6 linked regions of the Homo sapiens genome follow. The protein of the gene in region 6 purifies or fractionates together with the protein of the main gene of each other region. This does not show direct contact. Each region holds a gene or a part of one and is shown on either strand. Other genes may lie near its edges. The genes, in order: RPS6KC1, NPAT, NME8, XPO6, RBM25 and VPS39.

Region 1 (4,295 bases), on a different chromosome or scaffold from region 6:
AACAAGGCGAAACCTCGTCTCTACAAAAAATAGACAAATTAGCCGGGTATGGTGGAGGGCGCCTGTAATCCCAGCTACTTGAGTGGCTGAGACAGGAGAATCACTTGAACCCAGGAGGCGAGGTTACTGTAAGCTGAGATAGCGCCACTGCACTCCAGCCTGGGCAAGAGAGCGAGACTACGCCTTGGAAAAAAAAAAAAAAAATTCTGAATTTGGTTAACCTTTCCTTTTGTAAAGTAACAATACAAATAATTATACTCAGTGCTTCCAATTCCAGTTCCACACACATTCATACCTCCAGGTCTTTATGGACTCTACCCCTTCAACTGTCTACCTTTTCATACCCTCTCCTTTTCTGGATTCTTCCCCTCTTTCAACTATCTTGATTGGTACATATTCCCCAATCTCTTGATCCAGAAGCAATCTGTCTTCCCACAGCCCTTTTCTGTAGTGTCTGCTGGAACTTCCTGTGTTATATCACACTTAAGTATACTAAACTCTCTTCTACTATGAGTATCCTTGAAAGGAATAAAGATCCCTGCTTTATTCAGCCTTATGTCCCTCAGTATTTAGTGCCTGGATCTAAACATTTATTGGGTGTGCTCCGTACAATGAAGAGGAAAACATTCAACAATGTTTTTCAGGCACTGTGTGCCATGCACATGCATGTTCTTTTATCTATTATTTGATATAAGCAGAAACAAATGCCAATGATAGAGAACTGCTCTAAATCCACTAAGAGACACAGACATGCAACTAAATTAATACAATATAACTTTCCTGTTAAATTAACGGATAAGTAGGATGCTGTGAGAGAAACATTACGTATGTTGAAAACTGTTCTGATTCCATACACTATGTGTTAGGAAACTAAGCCTAGATTTTCAAAGGGCCCAATGACTAGAAAGGTTTCAAGAGTGGTATAATAAGGGCCCCTCACTCTCACAAAATTTCTTACACAACCTGAAACTAACATTCCACCCATGTAACAACCTTAAGTGCAAGCAGGGAGCAACAAACATCCCTCTATTCTCCGAACAGCAATCGGCAATAGCAGGTCAGGTCTTCTCATTATCTTTATACAGACATGTTCATCTATCCCTCCTTCTCACATTTATCTGAATTGTGCACCATTTCCATACATCACGTGCCACTCCCATGCCCCAAACTGATCTATTTAACCTTTAAGATTCTTCTCAGGCTGGGTGTGGTGGCTCATGCCTGTAATCCCAGCACTTTGGGAGGCCGAGGCAGGCGGATCAACTGAGGTCAGGACTTCGAAATGAGCCTGAGCAACATGCAGAAACCCCATCTCTACTAAAAATACAAAAAATTATCAGGGCATGGTAGCACATGCCTGTAATCCCAGCTACTCGGGAGGCTGAGGTAGGAGAATCGCTTGAACTCAGGAGGCAGAGGTTGCGGTGAGCAGAGATCATGCCATTGCACTCCAGCCTGGGCAACAAGAGCGAAACTCCGTCTCAAAAAAAAAAAAATTATTCTGAAGGCCTGCTTTACATCCTCCAAATGTATATTGAACTACTGTTACTTAATCTGTACCTCTCTTCTTTAAAAATTGATAAAGTTAATTATTAACATTTTATATAACTTGGAGTTAGGCAAAACTGGTTTCAGATCCCAGACAGATCTGCTACTGCCTTGCAATGTAAAGTTGGGCAAGTTACTAAACTTGCTTTAATCTATTTCTTCCTCATTAAAATGAGAATTAAATTGGGTGATGTGCATAAAATGCCTACTATACACATATATTCATGCACACATACGTCACATACATATATACTTATTTAATTTTGATTTATTCTTACTTTCCTAGAAGATGCAGACTCTCTTTAAAACTCAAGGCAAAAGCAATGAAACATAAAGTGGGTACTAAAAATTGGACCAGTTAGTTGATGTAAAGGAGCCTCCCAACTTTAAAATGTGCCCTCATGGTAGCTCACACAAGCCACCCTCAGCAGATTTTTTTCACGTCTCCTACTGAAAAACATGAAAAACTCAAAGGTTTGACAAAGCCCGGATCCACAGTTCCTAGGTTGGTGGCCTAACACTGACATCTGTCCCAAGAATCTGTCTTTCTCACAGCAAACCTGATAAAGGTCAAGAGAAAAAACAACTTATATTACATAAGCCAAACAATACATAAATTAACACTTTTTAATCTGCATTATCTTCCTGGAGCAAGCAAAACCACTTCTGCAAATTGCGAACTCAGAAGAGAAAGTCCAAACGGGATGGGAACTGAGTCATCAATTTAAAACCATCAACCACTGACTGCCCCACCCCCAGAAAGAGGACTCTACCACGACCTACTACAGTGAAGCCCTGGGCATATCACACTCAGCCACTACTCTAAAAATCCCAACCTCCGACACCCAAGTCCCGCCAGTAGGAGCAGCACCCAGTCCCACCCTCGGCTCTGAGCCAGAGTCAGGTACCCTCACATCAGGGTCCCCACCCCAGATCCTCAGGTCCCAATCCAAGCTCTACCCCAGCCCGACACCGGCACTCACCCGGGCGGTGACCTTATATACTGTGTAGCCCCTCGGGTGTCGCTGGGGCTCGGTGACAGTGTAGAAACGGGCCAGGTCGGCACTCCGCTCCCGGTAAGAGGTCATCCTCCCGCCGCCTCTGCCGCCGCCGCCACCCGCCCGGGATCATGAGGGAAACCCGGCGCCGCCGCGGTCCAGGTTCCCCAACGCAGCGGCGAAGCGGCGAGGGGGCGGTGGCTCCAAGGCGGCTCCACGGCGGCGCCTCAGCTGCACAGCTCTGCTTCCGGGTCAGCAGAGAAGCTTCCGGGCCAGGCTATCTCCCGCTTCTAGGGGGAGGGGAGACTCCTCCTTAGATTCTAGCCCCTTTGGGGCACCTGGGACTGGCCTGTAGTTGAAGACTAAGGGGTCGCGCTGCCACCCCCGTCACTGCGGAGACCTCAGGCCTCTCCACTAAAGACGACCTCTTGTACGCTAGCTCCGTCACCTTTTATGAGATTTTATGAGAGTTGGTATAGCCACGCCACACCGGGAGAGCGTGGTCCTCCCTGCCTCCGCCCCGCCGTGGTACAAACTTAAGTGGAGTGTTGAAGGGATGGAGAGATACCATAGCCTAGCACCTTCTTTCCTTACCTATTCACAGCCTATCATTTTAAATACCCACAGCAACATCTCATTCTCTGAGACATATCCCTTACTTCTTTCTAAGACGAATTTCCTTCCATTGAGCGCCTTTCTGTAACACATCTGCACAGCAAGCCCCCAACCCAAAAAAGCTCCCAAGCCAATATCAATCTTTTAAAAATCCCCACAGGTTCGAAAATCTGGAGTCCGCCTCTGGCTAGAAGAAAGAAATATGTCACTCGACCTCTCCGAGTCACTCACTACAGTTTCCAATTTCAGCTGAGGTTGTTATCAACGCTTGGCAGTTCCTTTATCTTTTTGTGATCAAGGTTCCTTTTCATTCCACAAAATATTCATGCCAAGTCTTTGCCATTATCCTAAAGACTCTGTTCCTCTTCCTTTTGCCTCCCTACTCTCCGCACCACCACTCTTCTTTACAGGGAAAAAAGAAGAGGAAGAAGCAGCTATGGCCCTTAGTACCAATTCCTTTGTCTTCTCACATTTCCATGCCAGTCTGAAACGTACACATATCACTTGCTCATTTTTACAGCTAATGACTCCACATGTGATCTGAATCCCATCCTCTTTGGCAAACCTTAAGACACTGTTTCAATGACATTCCAAATCTCCTTTCTGTATGTTTAATCTCTTTCTCACCACTGGCTCCTTCTTTTCAACCTACATATATCTAAGTCTATTAGTCATTCATTAAACCTGAATTCACCACCTACTATGTGCCAGACATGATGCCAATTTGGCATTGGAGTTACAAAGATAGTCCCTGTTCTCCGACCGGGCGCGGTGGCTCACGCCTGTAATCCCAACACTTTGGGAGGCCGAGGCGGGCGGATTACCTCAGGTCAGGAGTTCGAGACCAGCCTGGCCAACATGGTGAAACCCCGTCTCTACTAAAAATACAAAAAATTAGCCAGGCGTGGTGGCAGGCGCCTGCAATCCCAGCTACTTGGGAGGCTGAGGCAAAAGAGTCGTTTGAACCCGGGAGGTGGAGGTTTCGGTGAGCCAAGATCGCACCATTGCACTTCAGCCTGGGGGACAAGAGCAAGACTTCTCTCAAAAAAAAAAAAAAAAAAAAAAAGGTAGATAGTCCCTGTTCTCAAGTACCATCTAGTAGGAAAAATAAAGACACAAAATATACTGTGATAA
Region 2 (3,500 bases), on a different chromosome or scaffold from region 6:
TCCTGCTTCAGCCACCCGAGCTGCTGGGATAACAAGCATGTGTCATGATGCCCATATAATTTTTGTATTTTTGGTAGAGATGGGATTTCACCATGTTGGCCAAGCTGGTCTCGAATTCCTGGCCTTAAGTGATCTGCCCTCCTTGGCCTGCCAAAGTGCTGGGATTACAGGCATTGAGCCACCATGCCTGGCCCCATTACATATCTTTATTGTATCATTTCATTGTTTCTCTAAATTATTATACAATTTGTAGCAGTGTAGAAGAAATGTAATTTATATAAACACTGTATTACTGTTTATTACACACAAATATACCCACTAATAAATGTTTAAGTATTGAATACTTAGGAATCCATGACTGTGGATGCAATATAGATTCTATTTTAAGTCATCATCCAATGTGTTTTTCAGGAACAGACTGCATTCAATGAATGAAGAAAAGTTTTATCTTACTATTGTAAATCATTTTATCTAATTAGATGGCAAATCATAACATCTTATGTTGGCAATGGTTTTGAAATGAAACCAAAATTACCATCAATCTTAAGTATAAGTAACACACACGCACCCATGCACACCCCAACCACCCATACCGGAAGTCCTAGGAATTCATCAATTGAAGTCTCTGGCTCCGTAGGGTTGTTATCTGTTTGCTTAGGTACTTGGGCAATATTGTTATCACTGTTAATAAAGAAAGAAAAATCTTTATTATAGTTATGCAATTAGGCAAAAACAATTAGGCATTTTAAACATATATAGCTTACCTAGTTAAAAATTTATTTATGTTTTCTGCTAGCTTTTCTTGAAGAGATTTGTTGCTTAGTATTTTTTCTCGTGCATTTTCAATAACCATTTGCTGGAAAAGAAAGCCACTGTTAGCAAAAGGACAATAAAGAGTATTCTGCTATTTAATATTTATAAGAAAAGAACAAACCGATAAGAGCTGGATAGTTTTAATAAACCTAAATGGAAACTCAGAAGTTGTGATGGCTCCCTCCATATTAATACCTGAATACAACACTTCATAATTTGCAAATGTTTTCACAGATCTTTCACCAACTCTTTCTTATACAGTTCCACACTCATCATCAAACCCCAGTAAATGCCCTATTTTTACAGTGTCGCTCTATAGCCCAGCCTGGAGTACAGTGGCACAATCTCAGTTCACTGCAACCTCCACCTCGCAGTTCAAGCAATTCTTGTGCCTTAGCCTCCTGAATAGTAGCTGGGATTACGGGCGTGTGCCATCACACCCAGCTAATTTTTGTATTTTTAGTAGAGACAGTTGTCCAGGCTGGTCTTGAATTCCTGGCCTCAAGAGATCCGCTGGCTTTGGCCTCTCAAAGTGCTGGGATTACAGGTACAAGCCACTACTCGCCGGCCAGTTTTTTTTTTTGAGACAGGGTCTGACTCTGTCACCCAGGCTTGAGTGTAGTGGTATGATCATGGCTCACTGCAGCCTTGACCTCCCAGGCTCAAGCAGTCCTCCCATCTCAGCCTCCCAAGCAGCTAGGACTACAGGCACGTGCTACCACACCTAGCTAATATTTGTATTTTTTGTAGAGAGGGGGTTTTACCATGTTGCCCAGGTTGGTCTTGAATTCCTGAGCTCAAGCAATCTGCCCACCTCAGCTTCCCAAAGTGCTGGGATTACAGGTGTTTGCCATAGCACCTGGCCAGTATTTTATTAAATGATCCAACAACAACAATGTATTTACAGATATCTATAAACTTACTCCTGTTTCTTTATTTGATACATACACACATACATACATTTGTGTATATATCTGTATTTTTAAACTCAGGAATATTTTAAGTTGCAAAGTTTGGCAGAGTCACTTACTTTTTCTACTGCAAAAGCGTTTGGATCTTGGAAATTCCGTATTGTTGAATGAGGGCCAGACAAAGTGGTACTTTTTCTCTGAGATTCACTGAAACACATTTTAAAAGCTTTTCTTTTAACCACTATATTTAACAGATTTAAAGATAAATACATATACAGACATAAATTTTAAGATCACCATAACAGAACAGATACAGTTGTCCCTGTATCTGCAGGGGGCTGGTTTCAGGACCCCCAAGGATATCAAAATCCACATGTACTCAAGTCCTACAGTCTGCACTAGGAAGCCCATGTATTCAAAAAGTCAGCACACTGCATATAGGCAGGTTTTACTACTAAATTTTTAATCTGTGTTCGGTTGAAAAAAACTTGAGTATAAATGAACCCATGCAGTTGAAACCCATGTTATTCAAGGTCAACTATATTTTCTCTATTTGTGTTAGGAACAAAGGGAAGTACAAAAAGTATTAGTAGTCTTGAATTCAAAAAAATGAGTTTGAAGTCTAGCTTTACCACTTACTACCTATGGTCTGAAGCACAGCAAGCTCTGACTCTCTAACCTACTTTATAATGACCAACTGCATTATTGGGTTTACTAAAGAATGGAATGAAATAAAGTATATATAAAGACTTTATTTAAAAAGTCAGGGTTCCTATAAATGTTAAATATTAATGTTGCTCTTTTATGGCTGGGCATGGTGGCTCACATCTGTAATCCCAGCAATTTTGGAGGCCAAGGTGGGAAGATCACTTGAAGCCAGGAGTTTCAGACCAGCCTGGGCAACAAAGTGAGACCCCCATCTCTACAAAAAATAAAAAAATTAGCTGGGTGTGGCGGCATGTGCCTGTGCTGCTGGCTACTGGGGAGGCTAAGGTGGGAGGATCTTCTGAGCCCACAAGTTCGAGGCTGCAGTGAGTTATGATTGTACCACTATACTCTAACCTGGTCAAGACAGCAAGGCCCTATCTCTAAAAATAAAAAAATGGATATTGCTGTTTGTTATTTTATATGGTGAAGTGAGAAAGGCTCCAATAAAGGAGGCTAACTAAGGTCAGTCTTGAATGAAAGACAACCAAAAGTAAAAACTCTAACAAAAATACCCAGGGCTTGGGAGCTAAGAAACTAGAATAAACATTTTAAAACTATTATCTCTTTCAAAAAATATCCTTCAAACAAAGACACACTTTTCTCAAAAGTGTTTTGGGAAAAACACTTTTCTCAAAGATTGTGCCTGGAAAAATTCCATCAATTGATCTTAGGACTTTAAATGTGTGTGGAGCATAGAACATAACTGTATTATTTACATTCAGTTAAAAAACATGGATTGCAAAAAATCTCAGATAACATCATTTGTAAGATATACCATTATTTTATATACCATTACAGAATAAACATATTTCCCATGAAACAGTGATATGCCATTAATTGAGAGATGCAACCCAATTTCAGGCAGGTTAAAATGTGAAGAAAGACAATGTATTTTGGAATAGTTCTAATATAGATCAGAACATAATCTGGTCCTATTAGTTTATTCACAATGTAAGTATCCTGATGTAATTCTTTTTTTTTTTTTTTAATGGATACGGGTAACTTGTCTCTTTTAAAAAGCATTTACCTTTTGCGTCTACCGGGAGACATTAAACTGGCATGTGCTTT
Region 3 (3,500 bases), on a different chromosome or scaffold from region 6:
TACTTTAGTTTTCCTCAGGATCCTCAAAGAGTCTATTAACAACCTCTTTTGCTTCATAGGCGTTAGATGCTCCATGGACAATGTTTTTCAATTTACTTATTCCAAACTGGGCTCGGATGGAGTCAGGGGAAAGTAATTTTGCTTCTTCTGGGTCTGTTGGGCCCATCAATCGTCTCCATTCTGCAACAGCATTCCACTTGGTCAGAATCATGACCATAGATGGACCCCTGCAAAGAACGGTGCTTTCAGAAGACCCAGCCTACTGAAAACTGTTGACACTGCAAACAAGGCTAAAGACAGAACACTGCAGCCTGAGCCAGGGAGCTCCTTTTTATTCTTTGTCCTTATCAGTGCAATCATGTACTTTCTTTTTTTCATTTCTCCCTCTTCTAATAGGTTTATATGCTAGGTGGGTGCTATAATTTAATTCTAGAGAATATTTGTCAATGAAGTCTTATTATTTTGCTACTTTGAGGTCTGTAAATAGAGACATTGTCATGGATTCAAGACTTGTTGCTTTATGGTTGTCCAGCAGCCTCTAACCGCTTCAGGGATTGCCTCAAGTTAAGATAGCCTTGCTCAGGCCATCCTCATTGCCAGGATGGCCTACTTCAAGTAACTGAGTGATGTGAGCATACAACAGCCTGGTCATCTCAGCCAATACTGGACAACTCTGATAGACCAATCTAGCTGTGGTTAGCAGAGGCTGTTGTCTGGTCTGCACTACATCTTGACTTGCCGTCATCCCCATCCTGCTTCTTTGCCCTGTCTTCCTCATGGCATCATTACTCAATAGCCTGAACAAGAAACTTCCAGCTTCCCAGAAAATGCAACCTGCAATAAGTATGAAAGTTAGTTTTCTAAGCTGTCATGGTACAGTCCTAGGCTTCTGCTTATTATTTATATCTCAATAGCACATATATTCCATTAAATTTTGTTAACTTTATAAATTCTGCCTTCCTAAACTCATTGACAAATTGTCAGGAACTGAAAAAAGAGAAGACATGCAATTAAAGAGGTTTCTTATACGTATTTTATACACACGTGTGTGTGTGTGCATGTGTGTGTGTATGTACAGTCATGTACCTCTTAATAATGCAGATACTTTCTGAGAAATGTGACATTAGGTTATTTCATTGTAGTGCAAACATCCTAGAATATACTTACAGAAACCTAGATAGAATAGCCTCTTACACACCTAGGCTATCTGGTTCAGCCTATGGCTCCTGGGCTATAAACCTGTATAGCATGTTACTATACTGAATACTGTAGACAACTGTAATACAGTGTTATTTGTGTATCTAAACATATATGAACACAAATGGTAATGCATTGCATTACAATGATCACGATGTCACTAAGGCAATAGGAATTTTTCAGCTCCATGATAATCTTATGGGACTACTGCTGTACATGTGATTCATTATTGACTGAAATATTGTACTGCAAAGCATGACTGTATAGAAAATTTTTGATGTGTAATATATATAAAATAGAAAAGACATGTAACTCATAGTAAATCGATAATGATGTTCACATAATTATGAACTCTGTGTAAAAGAGAGTTTTGGAAAGCAGCAGTTAAAAGCAGAGACTCCCTGGGTTCAGGACCCAGCGAAACACTAGTTTTGTGACTGCGGACAACTTCTAGCCCTGGTCCTATGTTCTCTCAAAATCAAAGTGGAAATTCTAGTAAAACTACTTCACAGAGTTATTATTATAAGAGTCAAATGAAATAAAGTGTGTACAGCTCATCACAAGGCCTGGAATTAAGGAAACAATAAATGTTAGCCTGTAATTTCTATGTGGTGGTTATAAAAGTATGTGTTGTCAGGAACAGATGCATCATGTAGAAAGAAGTTTTAAAAGAGTGTATTTCTTATCGTAATATTTATGTTATTATGTATACATAGTTTGACAAGGTATCAACACATGTAAAAAAAGATGTGAATAATCATAGCTAACATTTATCAAGTGTTTAATATCTGTCATGCACTGTTCTAGGTACTTTCAACACATCAATTATGTAGCCCTGCCAACAAGCCTATTAGATAGATACTATTATTATTCCCATTCAACAGATAAGGAAACTCAGGCAACAATTAAGTATGTTGGCGAAGCAGCGGTTTGAACTGAGGCAGCCTCTATATCTAATGTGAAGACCTAGAGAAACAGGAAGGAAGGAAGGAAAGGAAAGGAAAAGAAAGGAAAGGAAAGGGAAGGGAAGGGAAGGAAAGGGAGAAAGGAAAGTAGGAAGGAAGAAAGAATGAAAGAAAGGGAGCGAGGAGAGACAGAATGAGAGAGAGAAAAGAAGATAGGGAGGGAGGTAAGGAAATAGAAAAAAGATGAACCATGAATGTTAGCAGAATGTCTTTTCATGAATGAGATTAGATGAAATGTTTTAATTAATTTTTGCATTTTTCAAAGTTTCTATAATGAACATTTACCACTTTTATAATGCAAACAATTATGTATCAGAAACTTACACAGATAACATTTCCAATAAATCTTTATAAAAGTCTTTTCCTGTTACTTTTGGATAAATTTTCTCTATTTGCTCAGGAGTTAGGAACATTTTCTTCACCTGTGTCAGATCAAATCCAGCCTCCTTAACTATCTTCAGGATCTGCTCTAAGAAAAACAAATATTTGATAATATTGCAGATTGCTTCACTTTTCCTCCATACTCAAGTAGACTGAAATAACTAAGGAAAATGATAGTTTAATTTGCATATTGTGGTTTAACATGGCAAAACTCTGCCAAACGAAATTAAAATTCCAAAGCACCAAATTGACATTCAGAACTTCAGTATGTTAATGTAGATTTTCAGTCTCTGAGGCTCACCTTTCCAGAAACCACCTGAAACACCTAGTAGGCCACAAGAGTAGAAGGGGAAGGGACCTGCTCTCATGCTAAGAATAAAGATCTATTTTCACCTTCATACTACAAATGCCAAGGAATTTCTTGCTAGATATGGATTGAAGGATAAAGCCAATCTGAACTCTTCTCCCTGAAGAATCAGAGTACCATCGAGGGAATTAAACAAAGCAAATGTTGTCAAAATCTCACCAACAGCCTAAGTTTTGAGGGCTACATTCTAGAGACAAAGGTGAACCAACTGAGAAACTGGGAGCTTTCTGGTAAAACGGCCTCTTCTTTGCTCCAGATCAAAAGCACATAGAGTGGTCTGGGAGCTAAAGGCAATATGATTATAACCAACAGACAGCCTGGAGAAGGCTGGACCTCTCCTGCTGGAAGGGAGGTGGCCAGGATCTGCCCTAAGACAGGCACTGCAGAAATGAAAGGGAAGAAAACATAAACCTTTCCTCAGAGACTGTCTCAACAGAGAGCAAGGCCTATAAAGATATCATGAGAAAGTGATCATTATTATAGAGTAATATATAAGGTCCCCAGAACCACAGGTGAGAAAACAATTAACTTTCTCTGGAGAGGTCAGGGATGACTTCACAGAGACACTGACCTTTGTGTTAAGCATGGTA
Region 4 (3,500 bases), on a different chromosome or scaffold from region 6:
TCTTCTCAGCCAATCTCTCTCAGGTCAGTACCTATGCAATCTTTGTACCAATGCCCCTTTGCACCAACACATTCTTCTACTATCACCTGTATCACAGTCTCTTGTATTTTCAGAGTATGTTGACTTATCTTCCCCACTAAACTGACTCCCAGAGGGCAGGGGCAGTATTAAATATTACCCTGGAAGTGTAACGGTTATGAGCAGTGACTCGCTGTGTGACCTTGGGAAGTTGCCTAACCTCTCAGTGCACTGAATGTCAGCTATAAAACATGAAATGAAAGCTGCCTTTAAGCCAGGCATGGTGGTTCACGCCTGTAATCCCAGCACTTCGGGAGGCCCAGACGGGTGGATCATGTGAGGTCAGGAGTTCAAGACCAGCCTGGCCAACATAGTGAAACCCCATCTCTACTAAAAATACAAAAATTATTCAGGCATGGTGGTGCGCACCTGTAGTCCCAGCTACTCGGGAGGCTGAGGCAGGAGAATCGCTTGAACCCAGGAGGTAGAGACTGCAGTGAGCTGAGATCACGCCACTGCACTCCAGCCTAGGCGACAGAGCAAGACTGTCTCAAAAAAAAAAAAAAAAAAACTGCCTCTACCTCCTAGAGTTGTTTGGGACAGTAAATGGGTTCATAGGTTCATAGATGTAAGATGCCTGGCATATAGAAAGCAATACACACACACACACACACACACACACACATATTAACTATTATATTGTTAGATTGTAACCACAGTACCTAGGGTTGTAAACTTCATAGCAGGAAGTCAATACATTATTTCATGATTATTTGGCCTGGTGTGGTGGCTCGCGCCTGTGATCCTAGCACTTTGGGAGGCTGAGGCAAGAGGACTGCTTGAGATCAGAAGTTCAAGACCAGGCTGGACAACATAGCAATCCCCACTCTCTACAAAAAATAAAAATAAAAAAATTAGCTGGGCATGGTGGCATGGGCCTGTAGTCTCAGCTACTGAGGAGGCTGAGGTGGGAGGATTGCCTTGAGACCAGGAGATCGAGGTCACTATGAGCTGTGACTGTGCTGCTGCGCCCCAGCCTGGACAACAGAGCAAGACCCTGTCTCAAAAAATAAATAAATATATAATAAATATAAAAACCAATAACAAAAACTCTGGCTTAATCTACCTATTTCTTTATACTACATTAATTTTGCTGACCACATTTTGGTTTTATCAGGTGATTTGAACCATATCATATACTAATTTTTTCAGAAGCTATTCAAGTCATTTCTTGACAGGTAACTTTTTCTCCAGACTTTCTCTAATGCTGTGACTGACATACAAAACCTCTGGGTACTGCTGAACCTTTCCCTGCCATCTCCCTGCACCCCCATGTCTTCTTTGTACCTCTGAGAGCATGGGGTACAATGCAATGCTGTGGATGAACAAGTGGATGACATGCCATGTGAGTGGCTAAATTTCAGTTCTGATTCTGCCTCCATTACAGGGGCCACTCACGGTAACTGATATTAAAAAAATAAGGCTAGGTGTGGTGGCTCCCACCTGTAATCCTAGCACTTTGGGAGGCCAAGGTGGGCAGATCATCTGAGGTCTGGAGTTCGAGACCAGCCTGACCAACGTGGTGAAACCCCATCTCTACTAAAAAACACAAAAATTAGCCGGGTATGGTGGTGGGTGCCTGTAATCTCAGCTACTCAGGAGGCTGAGGCAGGAGAATTGCTTGAACCTGGGAGGCAGAGGTTGCAGTAAGCCAAGATCGTACCACTGCACTCCAGCCTGGGTGCAAAAGCAAGATGCCATCTCAAAAAAAAAAAAGGAAAGAAAGAAAGAAAGAAAACAAACCTTAGCAGGCAATTCAATTTCTAAGCAACTAAAAAAGAAATGCTAATATAAGCAAAAACTCAATTTTGCACACAATTTTCATATTAAGCAACAGCTCGCTCAATACTAAGTAATAATTTCTCAGCAAAGTAGTGGGAACCTCTAACATGTCACACCACTTAAGAATCCATGGGAATGCAACAAAAAATGATTTAATCAAATACAGTTATAGTATGCTAGCTCTTCCTGTAATTCTATACTGCAACTATAAATCTTTTTAAACTGGTTCTAAATGTGAAGGTCAACAGGGATAGTGTAAACAAAATTCCCCATACTCCCTATGCTCCACCACTATCTATCTCTAAGCCAAACAACATACAGGTGGAAGACTCTCCTGATCTTCCTTCCCATGAGGCAGCACCCAAAGAGCACAGGCTCCGGAGTACAGCACTTTGGGTCTAAATGCCAACTCCACCACTTGTCAACTAGGAATCACAGAGCAGGTCTGTCCATCTCCCGCTCTGGCAGGAACAGCCATAGTGGAACCTAGCAGAGTTGGTGGGGTTTACTGATACTGAATGACTAAGAGAAAAACTTGGCCAGGCGCAGTGGCTCACGCCTATAATACCAGAACTTTGGGAGGCCAAGGCGAGTGGATCACCTGAGGTCAGGAGTTCGAGACCAGCCTGGCCAACCTGGTGAAACCCCATTTCTACTAAAAATACAAAACAAAAAAAAAAACTAGCTGGGCGTGCCTGTAATCCCAGCTACTCAGGAGGCTGAGGCTGGAGAATCATTTGAATCCAGGAGGCAGAGGTTGCAGTGATCCAAGATCATGCCACTACACTCCAGCCTGGGTGACAGAGCGAGACTCCGTCTCAAAAAAAAGAAAGAAAAAACAAGTAATGAGTGAAGAATAGCTAGCACATCAAAGATGCTTAATAAGTGGTAGTTTTTATCACATTACGCCACTTTCAAGTCTTATTAGAGTTGAAGATTTAAAAAGAAGATGTTAAAAGGGCTCAAACTTATGCCAACTAATACCCTTAAAAGTAAAAATGTTAAGTCAGCAAGAAATGGAGAGGAAATAATTTCCTGGAATAAAGAGCTGGGATCCCAGGGAAAAGACCCTCCGCCTGTAAGACACCAGCCAGGCAACAGTTTCCTTACCTTTGGGGGACAGGGCCTACCCTACCCAAGCCCCTGACCCTGGGATACCTACAGATGAACCACTGTGTCAGTGACACAAAAAGGACAATCCTATTCACATCAACTATGGCCACCCCCTGTGTACTTAAATAACTGAGGTCTAGGTGACAAAAACTTTGACTTGCAACGTACCTCAGAAAAAATGCACATGGAGTTCATGAAGCCAACTACTTTACAATTCATTACTCAAAGGTGGTCATTCCCATGATGCTCTACTGACTGCCAATTAAAATGAAACCTCAATACAAGGGTGCTGGGCTAGCTCAGTCAATAACAAAATTCTGTCCAAGGGTCCTAAAGCAATGCTGTAAGTTTCCCAAGGGGAGGAATGTGTGTCTTGTTCATCTGTACATGCCCTAGGCCCTGGTATATGGTGGTGGCTACTGAAAATTCACTTGTAAGATTTGTACACCCATATTCACAGCAGTATTATTCACAATAGCCAAAGGGTGGAAGCAACCCAGGTATCCACCGAAGGATGAAAGGATATA
Region 5 (3,500 bases), on a different chromosome or scaffold from region 6:
TCAGACTTAAATTAGATTCAGGGGGCAGCAGGATAACATACACTGTAGTGTATTTCTGGGGGCAGTTATTTAACTTGATCTTAGGAATACCTTTTCTTTAGAGCTGAGATTAAAATTTACATTTTATATTTGTATAGATTTAAGTTGAGTGGGGGAGATTTTAAACAGTAGGTCAGTGGTTACCAGACTTACCAAATTTTAGATGCATGGAAGAACTGTAAATTCCCATAAAGCTAATCTATTCATTGACCCCCACCATTATGATAGAGATCATATGGTGACTAATGCAAGATGAAACTCTCAGCTTGGAAAGTAACAAGGAATAGGATGTAAGTATGAGCTTCTGTTTTTTATTATATTTATGGATGCCCCCTCAGAAAAATATGCAAAGGGGTAACTGGCTTGGAAATGGGTATTTATGCATAGTAAATCCCACTCACGAGTTTTGCCTATTTGAAGCTTCTCTCAATGACAGTGCATCTGTGAATGTTCGCTGGTGTTGAAAATGATGCTTTTGAACGGTGCAATGCAAACACTGCATGAAATGTATTTTGATGGTCGAGATAATAAGGTGTTGCTGGTTCTTACTGATAGACTGAGAGATCTTTAACTCAGTGAAATGTTAAATGTTCATTTTCTCTTTTATTCTTACTTTTTCCCATTGCTTTCAAAATCTGCAGTTCACAAATAATGCCAATGAATCAGTGCTGCTGAACACTTACTATCCAGATGCCCAGCCCTTGCTCACAAACACAATGCTTTTTCAAGAATTAAATGTGTCTAAGAGCACAAACATAATTCTCCCAAAATTAATTTTGAGAGTTGAAAAGGTGGTCTATGGGAAATCATTTTAGATGAATAATTTTGGTTAGGTATAATACTGAAATTCAGGACCGAGTAAGCTTAAAAATGGTATATGGTTGTGTGTGTGGTTTACCCCCTTTTTGTTTTTATTTATTTGTTAAACCCTGTCATGTTATTGGTAAATTATGAGGAAATCATGTTTTAAGAAAAATTCAAAAATATATTTGCTTTAAAGTTTGGGAATCTGTTAGGCATTTTACTGCCTTAGTATTATTTCACTGGAGGGAATGTTTTGAATTTTCAGAATGTCTTTTCAAAATAAAAAGAAATCAAAATGAAAAACCAAAACAGTTGTTTTTTATTGGGTGGTTTGGCTAAAAGGGTTGTTTGAAACTCCAGTAACAAAAAATGAGCTCAGTGAACCTTTGCATGTTTTGGTATGAGTTTATTAAATAACCACAGACTGTCAGGGTATCAGCGTGGCAGGGGGCGTCCATTTACAGCACGGATGAGTCTGAAGAGAGAATAAGGTAAGATTTATGATTTTTTAATCTGTCCTTTCCTCTTCATGACTTTCTTACATAATTTTAGACTCACCTCATTTCCCTTCTCCAGTCTTTCTTTAAAAATATACATGTATGTTTACATGTATACCTGTATTTGTATACATGTGTGTATATATATATATATATATATCTCATATATAAACTTCAGGAAACATTTAGTATGGACTAGATTCACTCACTTTTTCATTTACTTAGAACCAAACTTTTGAAATGAGTTCTGAAACAAATGGTTATTTATATAACTGAATATAAGGAGCACAGTGAAATAAGCAAGAATTAAAAATTGAGGAATTCTACAGGAAAAATTAGTATTGGAACAGCTAAAATATTCTGTAAGTATCTATTTCAGAAATAAACAAATTTCTTTATAAGTGTATGCCATTGAGGTAAGTTTTATATAGTCTAGCCTCATTTTACAATATAAATTTTTATATTCATTGGAACTGTTTCAGAAATGAGATTTTTCCCCCTTTAATAGCTGTTAGTTTCTGTCCTCTTTCTATCATATCTTATTTCATCCCTTTGTAATTTCAATGTATTCAGTTTTGACTTTGCCCGTATTCTACTTCGATATAGACTGGCACAGCAACTGAATATATTGCTCATACATTAGCTTTCCTTTCATAACCTGCTATAAGTTCTCTGATCCATGAGGAAGAGAAAAAGAGTATCTGACAGGTAAGATTGCTTTTTAAAGTTGTTTTAAATGCATTACATGACTGAGAAAAGAAAAATGCACATTTTATTGTTGCAGTTTAAAATTTCATTTTGGTGAAACTAAACGTGAAACAAAAGGGATAAATGTGTTTTGTTTTGTTTTGTTTTACCTGTTTGGGGTATTTTTTTCTGAGTTTGTGTAGAAACCGTGTGGTACACTGGTAATCTTGTCAGGGTACAAACTTGGTCTGACTTTGTTATTTGGTTTATTTGTGAACCATGTACTTGCTCTTCCTCCCAGAAACATAGCTTGTAGGCAAGGTTAATCCAGTGTTGGCGATCCATGTCCTAGCACAGCATCTGTAAGTTAATGCACAATCGTTCCTTCCAAGGATGGATTTATCATTGTAAATATATTTTCATTGTCTTACAGGCATAATGGGCATAAGTATGTTGCTTTTAAATATTTTAAATTAAACTATTACAGTTACATATATTTTGCTTGAAGTGAGTGATTTTCAAACTTTTTGTATTTGGTGGGCTGTCCATCTTGTAATGGTGGGAGTAAATGTTTCCATAGATGATAAGGCAGTTCTTGGCTGAATTCAGCTTGTGTTTCTTTTGGAGGGTGGGCAAATCAGAGGGCAGAGATTATTTAGTTGCATTATAGGTATTCTTCTATACCACTTGCCCTTTGAAACCCTCAACTTGAGGTAATGTGCAGTCTGGGGTTTTAATTAGTATTAATAATCTTGTGGATTTACAGAAATCTATAATGCACAGAGTTGAGTTTTAACCAATGATCGTATTCATAGAAAATATTTCGAACCACCACATTCTTCATGGTCATTTTAGTTAGTACATAGTCATTGAGTGGCCAGCCACACCTGACACAATCTCCCAGCATCCAAGATTGGAGATTCCTGGTCTGTGTAGAGTATATGGTTTTGCACGAAATCTTTCTAGTCTTGTGATTGCTTCAGTTTAATTTGTCACATAAAACCACAAGTATTTAATATTAATGTATCAGTGGTTTGGTGTTTTTGTTCCCAGTACTGGGCTTTGCGCCGGGAAAAATCTGAATACTGGAGCTACAGAGTTAACTCTAAAAGTGCTTTTATTGGTTTCTAGAAACTGGAAGAAGAGAAAGGCAAAAAGGAAAAAGAAAGACAGGAAATTGAGAAAGAACGGAGAGAAAGAGAGAGGGAGCGTGAAAGGGAACGAGAAAGGCGAGAACGGGAACGAGAAAGGGAAAGAGAACGTGAACGAGAAAAGGAGAAAGAACGGGAGCGGGAACGAGAACGGGATAGGGACCGTGACCGGACAAAAGAGAGAGACCGAGATCGGGATCGAGAGAGAGATCGTGACCGGGATAGAGAAAGGAGCTCAGATCGTAATAAGGATCGCAGTCGATCAAGGTAAGGCTTTACAGAAGTTACTGTTTCCTGATAGCTTTAAGAAAACTATCGGGTA
Region 6 (3,500 bases):
TGATAAGCTCACTGTACTTGTGAGCCTTCTTTAGCACGTGCTCGCTCTCCTCGATGTGGCAGTGATTGTTCTCCAGGCGTAGCAAGGGGGCCACCAGGGCCACATTTGTCTGCAGAAAGAGCAGGAGTTCAGTGGAAACTGCTTCCTGGGGAGCCCCACCCTTCCCTGGCCCAGGCCTGCTCTAGGCTGAAAGGCCAGGAATGTAGCACAAGCAAGAGAAAGCAGACAGCCCTCTTTCAGGACAGCAGGTAGAGGCTTTTAGAGCATTTATGGACCTTCGCACAATGTGTTTTAATGTTCTGTGGGGGAGAACATTTCTTGAAGGAAATACTGTCCCAGCTGACTTTGTAGCACTAACTGCAATCCGACCAGAGAAGATGAATCCACTGTACAATTGTGCATTGATATCTTGCCCTATCCTCTTAATTCCAAGAGACTCACAGACATCAGGAGAAGTCTATATGGTTTCCAGAATCAAAGACTTCACTCTTACTAATGGCAGGTCCCTCAGGGTCTAGCACTCCCTTTTACTTTCCCAGACTGTCAGGGTAACTGGGAATTGTGGCACCCGAGCGCTCAGGTAACTCACATGGAGATAGCACTTGAGCAGGGTGGTGTCGATGATTTGTAGCAGCTTCTTCTTGGATTTGATGGTGGGAGTGCCTTCCATGAGCGGTGAGGTGCTTGACTGGTGATCAGAGTCATTCAGCTTCTTTACCAATTGACTTCGTTTCTGCAAAGGTCAAAATGTGGGGTTAAGGCCAGGACTAAGTCTTCCTTTGTCATCTGAGCTACTGGGTAATTCTGAATACCTCCAATCAGCTCATGCCTATTGGCCTGATCTCACATTAGCATTCGATTTTTAGCACTGCCAAATTGCCACAGAGACAACAACAATTATTTATTGAATATTTACTACAGACCAGGCACCATGCCAAGCACTTTATATATACCATCTTAAACCTAAAACAAGTGCCGATAATATTATCCTTATTTTACAGGTGAGGAACCCAAGGCACAGGTGTCAGCTGCTACATAAGGGGTAGGGCAGGATTCACACTGGGGGCTGACTCCAAAGCCCATGTTCTTTTATTTTTTTAAAAATCAACCTTATTGAGGTATAACTTACAATAAAATCTAATCTTTTAAAGTGTACCATCAGATACATTTTGACAGATGTGTACATGCATGTAACCACCTCAGTGAAGGAAGATAACATTTCTATCACTCCAGAAAGTTCCTCGTGCTATTCCCAAACAATCCCACCTACTGATCTGCTTTTGATCCCTGGAGATGAGTTTCTGCCTATCCTAGAACTTCATCCAGTATGTATTCTCTTGAGTCTGGCAGAGCCCATGGTCTTGCTCTGCCATCTCTCTGGCACAATACTAGTGTCAGTTACTTCACACATTCCCATTGTCAGTGAAGAAGGCCAGGGAAGGACGTGTGCTCACCTTCCTACAGCTAAGACATTGGCAGTGGAGGGCCTTCCACAATGCCACTGGCTTTGGGAGATAGTATGCCCAGGAATCTTTTTTACTTAGCACAGTGTGTGCAGTGTGTAGGCAGTGGCAAGTTTGTGTGCTCCTTGCAGGCTGCCAGCCCCAGGAGGGTACCCCTGGAGCCCAATGTCAAGGAAGGGCCAAGGCCACCCATGCCTGATCAGACCTGCAGGGACTCACTGACCCAGAGGCAGGGAGTGGAAAGTGGCATGACAATTTTTCCAGCAATACTTCTTCTTTTTTTTTTTTTTTTTTGAGACAGAGTCTCACTCTGTTGCCCAGGCTGAAGTGTAGTGGCGCAATCTCGGCTCACTTCCACCTCTGCCTCCTGAGTTCAAGCAATTCTCCTGCCTCAGCCTCCTGAATAGCTGGGATTACAGGCGTGGGCCACCACACCCAGCTAATTTTTGTATTTTTAGTAGAGACTGGGTTTTGCCATGTTGGCCAGGCTGGTTTCGAACTCCTGACCTCAGGTGATCTTCTGTCTCAGCCTCCCAAAGTGCTGGGATTACGGGCATGACCCACCACACCCGGCCAACAGCAATACTTCTCAGTGCCTACCCTAGAGCATTCTGGAGACCTCTTACAAAGATCTGCAAAACACTTAAGAGGAAAAAATATCAATAAGGTCTCTGATTCTGAATGGGTACACAGGAAATAAACAATAGCCTTCTGTGACAGAAATCTAGGGTTAAGAGACTTTAATGGAGATGCTGGCTTTAGTGCTGACTTAAAAAATGTATCTGTCTATAACAGTAAATCATAAAAAATTTTAAATCTAAATACCTCCCTAAAAAACATGTTATATAAGGACATTTATTGATAAGGAAGTACTTTCTCAGTATATGGCTAAATTTTTAAAAAGTTAAGCTATAAAACAATCTACAATTTGATATCCATTTGCAATAAATAAACCAAGAAGTAAATAAACAAAAGCTAATTCATAGATATACAAGTCTAGAAGGACAACACTAAAATGTTAGTTTCTTACATTCTGGTGGTAGAGTTATAGGTAATTTGTATTTCTGCTTTGTACTTTTTTGTGTGTGTTTTCCAAGTGGTTCCACATACAGGAGGCATTTTCCCCAAAACCATGTATATTACAAAAAGTTTGTTTTAAAAAAACTTGTATGCTTCTATCAACTAAAATTTACTTTTTTTAGTTTCTATAACAGCTTTGTGTGAATTTACTAGGAATTGGGTGTGTTTATTTTTATCAAGATTTGGCAGAAAACCCCACCTCAATGGTACTGTAAAGTTAGAAGTAGCAGAAAGAAACTTTACCCCAGGCAGACTTCCTACAGCATTAATTTACAGACTGCCTTGGCATTAGAGAAGGCCCTCAATTCCTTGCCACAAAGAAACAAGTACTGAAACTCCCAGGCAAACTCTTTCACGCACTCTGTACTATACCTACCTGTGTCAGGTAGTCAATCAGAGCTAAGTGAGCCTTCTCCAATTCAGCCCCGGAGAGCACAGGCAATGGGTTGGGATACTGCAACTGCTTTCTGTAGTCTGTGGGCAGCAGGTCAGGGTACAGGCCCATCACATGGGTGGGATCTATATGGAAGGTAAACATGATTCCTCTGGAAAGGAGCCCAACAATTTAGGGATAAAATAAAACAGGACTATTACTATAGCAAAATAAGTTCCAGACTGATTTAAAAAAAAAAAAAAGACTCTCAGTTCATAAACATTCAACGAGCTGTAGACTTATGATTTGAGCACTTTTTATACATATGTTAAAATTCACTAAAACATCACAAAAATGCCTGACTATATTCAAATACACACACATAATTAGAATTGAATATTTATCAAGCCTCTGAAAGTAGAGAATAAAAAATTTCTAAGGAAAAATGCTGATATTGAAGTAGAAGAGATCAAGAGACTCAACAATAAAAAATTTAAGTCAAAAAAAGAAACATTACTAAAAAAAAAGACAACAGGCTAGGGAATATATTTGTAGTATATATGGCAAGAGGCTAATTTGTTGAT

Evidence for each region.
Region 1: the proteins of VPS39 (region 6) and RPS6KC1 purify together in Homo sapiens (affinity purification with mass spectrometry; one large-scale study listed by BioGRID and IntAct). This does not show direct contact.
Region 2: the proteins of VPS39 (region 6) and NPAT purify together in Homo sapiens (affinity purification with mass spectrometry; one large-scale study listed by BioGRID and IntAct). This does not show direct contact.
Region 3: the proteins of VPS39 (region 6) and NME8 purify together in Homo sapiens (affinity purification with mass spectrometry; one large-scale study listed by BioGRID and IntAct). This does not show direct contact.
Region 4: the proteins of VPS39 (region 6) and XPO6 fractionate together in Homo sapiens (co-fractionation; one large-scale study listed by BioGRID). This does not show direct contact.
Region 5: the proteins of VPS39 (region 6) and RBM25 purify together in Homo sapiens (affinity purification with mass spectrometry; one large-scale study listed by BioGRID and IntAct). This does not show direct contact.

The regions. Positions count from the first base shown.
Region 1 is NC_000001.11:213,049,746-213,054,040, reverse strand, and holds the start of RPS6KC1 (ribosomal protein S6 kinase delta-1), read right to left. Parts: upstream 2,801-4,295; 5' UTR 2,637-2,800; coding exon 2,532-2,636; intron 1-2,531. UniProt on the Homo sapiens protein: May be involved in transmitting sphingosine-1 phosphate (SPP)-mediated signaling into the cell. Plays a role in the recruitment of PRDX3 to early endosomes.
Region 2 is NC_000011.10:108,184,639-108,188,138, forward strand, and holds part of NPAT (protein NPAT), read right to left. Parts: coding exon 3,460-3,500; intron 1,932-3,459; coding exon 1,844-1,931; intron 857-1,843; coding exon 765-856; intron 682-764; coding exon 594-681; intron 1-593. UniProt on the Homo sapiens protein: Required for progression through the G1 and S phases of the cell cycle and for S phase entry. Activates transcription of the histone H2A, histone H2B, histone H3 and histone H4 genes in conjunction with MIZF.
Region 3 is NC_000007.14:37,893,597-37,897,096, reverse strand, and holds part of NME8 (thioredoxin domain-containing protein 3), read right to left. Parts: intron 2,632-3,500; coding exon 2,487-2,631; intron 228-2,486; coding exon 5-227; 3' UTR 1-4. UniProt on the Homo sapiens protein: Probably required during the final stages of sperm tail maturation in the testis and/or epididymis, where extensive disulfide bonding of fibrous sheath (FS) proteins occurs.
Region 4 is NC_000016.10:28,205,466-28,208,965, forward strand, and holds part of XPO6 (exportin-6), read right to left. Parts: intron 1-3,500. UniProt on the Homo sapiens protein: Mediates the nuclear export of actin and profilin-actin complexes in somatic cells.
Region 5 is NC_000014.9:73,100,034-73,103,533, forward strand, and holds part of RBM25 (RNA-binding protein 25), read left to right. Parts: intron 1-3,158; coding exon 3,159-3,445; intron 3,446-3,500. UniProt on the Homo sapiens protein: RNA-binding protein that acts as a regulator of alternative pre-mRNA splicing. Involved in apoptotic cell death through the regulation of the apoptotic factor BCL2L1 isoform expression.
Region 6 is NC_000015.10:42,166,805-42,170,304, forward strand, and holds part of VPS39 (vam6/Vps39-like protein), read right to left. Parts: intron 3,063-3,500; coding exon 2,920-3,062; intron 734-2,919; coding exon 590-733; intron 110-589; coding exon 1-109. UniProt on the Homo sapiens protein: Regulator of TGF-beta/activin signaling, inhibiting SMAD3- and activating SMAD2-dependent transcription.